Regions from separate parts of the Homo sapiens genome. Here region 1 is linked to region 2. Evidence: fine-mapped expression QTL. Tissue or cell type: whole blood. Region 2 holds a variant in brackets; the other region holds the start of a gene. All regions are shown on one strand. Distances are between the middles of the regions.

Region 1 (2,770 bases), 22 kb before region 2:
ACAGAAGCAGAGGCTGGAGCCATGAGATTGCTGACTTTGAAGATGAAGGAAAGGGCTGCAAGCCAGGGAATGCGGGAGCCTCTGGAAGCTGGAAAAAGCAAGGAAAATAGATTTGTCCCTAGATCCTGCAAAGAGAAACACATCCCTGCCTACACCTGGATGATAGCCCAGTGAGACCTGTGCTGGACTTCCAGGACCTACAGTCCTGGAAGATAGTAGTAAATCTGTGTTGTTTTAAGCCACTAAATGTGTGAAAATTTATCACAGCAGCCTTAGCAATGAATACACTGCCCAACTTGTAAGCAGAGGATGTGGTGGCTTCAAAGTCCAGGCTTTTTCCCTGCTACTCCTTTCTTTCTTTCCTCCCTCATGCCCAATATCTGTCATCTGTTGATTGGTTAGTAACATTCTCAACGCCTTACTGTTTTATTAAACTTATAAAAACAATGTATTGGTTTAAAAAAAAACAATTCAGTGGTTGTGAAGGTAAGAATCAATAGACAATTTCTCCACCGTTAGCCCCGCCTCTTATAGAAGCACATGCAGCATGTCTTCTTCATACACGAATGTAATGCTAAAGCTGATGCAGTGGCTCAGGCCTGTGATCCCAGCACTTTGGGAGGCCGAGGCGGGAGGATCACTTGAGCCCTGGCGTTCGAGACCAGCCTGGGCAACAAAGTAAAACCCTGTCTCTAACAAAAAATCAAAAAGTTAGCTGGGCGTGGTGGCGGCGCACTTGTGGTCCCAGCCTCTGAGGTGGAAGGATCGCTTGAGCCTGGGAGGTTGAAGCTGCAGTGAGCTGTGATGGCACCACTGCACTCCAGCCTGGGTGGCAGAAGCAGACCCTCCCCCTGGAGGGGAGGGGAGGGGAGGGGAGGGGAGGGGAGGGGAGGGGAGGGGGAAAGAGAGATCCTACTCTCCATTTTAATACAACTTGCTTTTTTAATTAAAAACTATAGCTAGAACCGATAGATTTCACTCGTCCTTAAAAATAGTCCTGTATTATTTTATATAAACATCTCTCGCTATTTATCAAGGCCGTCACTTGTTCAGAAGTATTCTCACTTTTGTTTTGTTTTGTTTTGTTCTTAACAATTTGCTCCCTATATTCCTGGGCTGGCGCCTAGGCCTGCATCCGGGATTTGGCGCCACATCTGCGGGCAGGGCCTCTGAGGTCTAGGGGAGGGACGGCGCCGGCCAAGTCCCGCCCCCGTCCGCGTCGACCAATCAGCTCCCTGGAAGGCCCCTCCTCACCACCCCCCACCCCCGCAGTCTCCGCCTAAGACTTTCCAAGTCCTGTAGTTTCGAGCCCGCTGCCCTTTGCCTCCTGGGCGGAGAAGCTGCTTCCTCCTGGGAACAACCGCCTCCCGCTCCTAGCAGGTTGCTACTGCCCCGAACCCGCGCTGCAGGGAACAGCGGGGCAAACAGTGAGTGGGGTTCAGCGTAGACTCTGGACCAGGAGAGGCCCGCGGTGACCGAGGCCTGGGCCCCGGGTTAGTGTCCGGGGCGGGGAGCGGTGGGCGGGGTGCGACGTTTAGCGTCTGGGGAGGGCCGGGCGTGGATTGCGGCCTCTGCGCGCGCCCCCAGGTGATAGAGCCGTTCCACCGAGGATCCCTTCCTTCGTCTCTACCCCGTTGATGATTTTTCTCTGCAGCTCGGTGCCTATTTCATTCTCGCCGCATTGTTATGCCCTCTGCTGGGCAGGAGGCGATGACCCCCCCTATTTTCGTAGGATTTGTTTTTTGCTCCGCAAGGAGCCATTAAGATCTGAGCTAGCAGGAACCCTCGAGGCGATTTGATCTCGCCAGCTGGGGGCTTGCATTCTTCTAGGCTAGCTTGTCTCCGTTAAGCCCAGGTGGAAGTTCTCATCCACCCCAGTGCTCTAGGCGCCCACGGGCGCAGTGTGGGTTTGTGGTGGGGGAAGGGACCTGGGGAGGGGTGGCGGTGAGAGCGGCGCGGGGATTCAGGCTGAATGTTAGTCTGGAATGCATTTGGCCTGAAGCAGCAAGTGCTGGGTGATACAGTTCCCTGGTAAACAGCCGAGAGCTGGCCGCTAGTTTGGCCCAACCTGCAACGGAAGAAGGCCTTAAGTACAGGAGAAAAAGATCTTTGCCAATTGGATAATCATGGAAATTTAGAAGAAGTACAGCTCGAACTAGACGTAAAGGACAGAATGTGTCTGTCTAGCTGACCAGCCAACCATCGGTCCATCACTTTCATCCTCCAAACTAGTGATTTGTTGATGAATTGGTTTCAATACTTTGTTTTAAAATGTTGAATAAAAAGTAAATGAAATATCTCAGAATGGTCTAAAAAATAATGAAACGAATGCCTGACCATCTCCTTGGGTCAAGAAATAGGGCGTCACAGTACCTTAGAAGCCCATGAGTCCCAACTGATGCCCATGGTCCATTCTCCTCCATTCTCTGAGATGTGACATCTTTCGTGATTTTTGTCTTAATTTAATGAATCCCTTGCTTTTCTTTTTAGTTTTACCATATTTGTGTGTGTATTCCTAAAACATATGTATTGGCTTTCTCATTATAATGACATTATATTAATGACATTATCCTGTACGTATTCTTAAGTTTTATAGATTCATCTTTCATGCTTCCTTCCATTTTCGTTTTCGTCATTTAAGGTGTAAATGTACATAATTTATCCATTCTACTGCTGATGGACATTGGATTGTTTCTACTTTTGGAGGTGTATGATTTATCTATAAGCTATGTAACAAATTACCCCAACACCTAGCAGCTTCAAACCAAAG
Region 2 (2,770 bases):
GCTCTGTGGTGGGAGTGGAAGCTCTGCTCTCTCCCTGAGTTACAGGTTGTGCCTTCAATACTTTCTGCTTTGGAGTTGGCTTTGGTTCCAGCAAGCTAAAAGGGGCCAGAGGTGGGCCCAGGAGAAAGAAAGCAGGAAGCATGGGAGGGGTTAGGGAGAGAAATGAAAGGACATTTCCCCCAGGTTTTATTCATTTGAGCTCACCAAGCTTGGAGGACAAACATGGATTCGGGCATAGAGAGGGAGCATTTGGTTCAAAAGTCAAGTGATGGAGTCACTGATAGCTGGTTAAAGTGGGGACACAACCAGCTGCAGAGTTCAAGGGACCCCCATAGAGGAGGAAATCAAATTTATAGATGGGCAGATGCACAACCTGATCAGAGATGGAGGAAGACCTTTTAGGTCCAGTGAGCCAGGATCAGTTGATCAGTCTACCTCATCATGTAAAAACTGTACCTAATCTTTTAATGTGTGTTTACATGCTTAACTGAATTTGTATTAACTCGGTGTTGTTTCTCATTGTAGTAGCAATACATACAACAATTCAAAGGATGCAGATTTGTATAAAGACAGAGAAAATGGTTCACCTCTTTCCTTCCTAATGTAATCAATGTGATTATGTTGAAATGTGGCCTCCATAGATTTTCAATGCATATAAAAGCCTGGTATGTAACAGGTACTTATGTATTCCTGGTGCTTAAGAGTATGGACTCCAGCACTGGGTTTCCTGGATTTGAATCCTAGATCCACCACCACTTAGCACCTGTGTGATTTTGAGCAAATAATTAATTCTCTGGGCATTATGATTTTGGAGTTTTTGTTTTGCCCATCCATAAAATGGGGATAGTGATAGTAAATATCTCATAGGTTTATTGTCAGCATTAAATAAGTTACAGAAATCACGTGTAGTAATGCCAGGAACCTGGTAAGCATTGTGTTGTTACTACTACTAATAATAATTACTACCACTACTAATTACAACTATTACTATTATCTTTGCCCATACAAAAATGACTTCATGTTCTGCATATCATAGTGACTTGAAATTTTCACTTGAAATGTATCTAGGACATTCTTCTAGGTGGATGTAAAATATATTCAACTCATCCTTGAACTAGCTCAGAAAACAACTAGTGAGACAGATATGTGAGGTCCCTGTTCTGCTTGTACTCGTGCCAGCGTTAGAGGCAGCAGAGGCTGAGGGAGAAGGGTTCTGATGGGCAACTCTTTAGTGGGTGTGTGTGGATAGATGGCTGGGGACAGTGCTACAGGGTCTTATGCTGGGTACAATGGGGTATCTGGGGGCTATGTGGAAGTTGGATAGGTGTGGGTTTGGGTTAGAGATCCTGCACCCACAAGAATCAAAAATGGTTCTAGGAAACATTCTTTGTCATTAGTCTATCTGTCTGTACTTCTAGGTTTTCATTTATCTCCCTTTGTAATTTTGTGTGGCAGTAAGCATCCTGTACGTATATCTTTGATACTGCCCTTCTTAGTTCTGTAAGAACGGTTATTAGAAGAAAGGTTGTTGGGTCTAAAGATAGGCACACCTTTGAAGCCAAGTAGGCACCATAAAATTGTTTTTGAAAAAGAGCGCAGACATTCTCCGTCATTCCTGCCGATTGTGATGGTCTTTTAAGTATTAAACATTATTAG[C/T]CTTTCAAATATTAAACTTTACTAGCCACCTTTGTCTTCTTCATCTTCATCTCCTTCCCCTTCTTCTCCTCCTCCACTTTCTCCTAGAAAGAAGTATCATCTTTTTTAACAATATTATGAGCAACACATGATATATTTTCCATTACTTGACTACTAGTGAGATTGAGCATTTTTTCCACACAAGTGGCCATTTATATTTTCTTTTCTGTGCCATATCTTCTCTTAGAAGGACAGGATTTCCGTAGATAGAAAGATTTGGGAGAGGGAACAGAATGGAAAGAGATTAGGAAGATAATCTAAAATGAAAACAGGGCATGTCCAAGGGCGCCTGGCAGACGGGATGCTGCAGGGAGAAAGGCAGCAGGAGAAAAGGCAGGAAAAGCCAGGGAGCAGCCAGCTCTGCAGGCAGTCCACACCAGGAGGCAGTAGATGGTCCCCAGAGACCAAGGTGGAGCTTTGAGATTAAATAACATGATTAGAGTGGTTTTAGAAAAGTAAAGGTGGGAAGAGGTCTTGGTAACTTAGAAATTGGGTCGGTTGAGTCCAGGCATGAATTACTAAGGACCTAAACTAGGTTAATGGCAGTGTGATTGGAAACCATGAACAAGGACATTAATAGGACTTGTGACCAGCTGGATATGGCAGCAGCAGGGAGAAGAGACATACTGTGACACTGTGCACTTTGCTATCCTGATTATTTGTGGGCATCAGGAGGAGCAGGGAAGAGACAAGCTTCTTGCTTACCAAATGTTCATATCAGTATCTTCTCAATAGTCCCCTGAGGTAGGTAGGTCATTAATGCTTCTGTTTAACTACTAGAAACGTTGAGCTTATGTAATTTGCCTTAAAAGAGCTCACTTAGAGGGAAATTAATAAATTCAAGACTTTTTTAGTTTAGAGACTGGCTATAAATGGCCAGTATGGTCTTGAACTTGTTACCTCAAGACTGGGGCTATTTTATCCTGGCTTGTGGAAGGCCCACAGCCTGTGTGAAGGGCTTTCTCAAGGGTACACAGAGATATATGAGAAATGAATGTAATAGTAATTAGCATTAGTGTTAGTGTTAGTATTAGTATGGTACCAAAATATGAAAACTATTAAATCAGAATCAATA

The links. PIP is the estimated chance that this variant, and not a neighbour inherited with it, causes the effect.
Region 1: TCAF1 starts here. The variant in region 2 is fine-mapped to the expression of TCAF1 in whole blood (INTERVAL, PIP 0.94).

Annotation. Positions count from the first base shown.
Region 1 is chr7:143,900,684-143,903,453 of GRCh38, reverse strand. TCAF1 (TRPM8 channel associated factor 1) reads left to right here and starts at 1,278. Exons shown (of 9, transcript NM_014719.3): 1 at 1,278-1,493. LOC105375549 (a long non-coding RNA gene) reads right to left here. Exons shown (of 3, transcript XR_007060574.1): 3 at 1,501-2,770. RefSeq lists a silencer at 1,118-1,257 and enhancers at 2,048-2,097, 1,773-2,310.
Region 2 is chr7:143,878,311-143,881,080 of GRCh38, reverse strand. All of the region lies in intron 1 of TCAF1 (TRPM8 channel associated factor 1), which reads left to right. Among named protein-coding and RNA genes, the nearest start is that of TCAF1, 22 kb to the left of the region's middle. The variant C/T (reference allele first, on the strand shown) is at 1,657.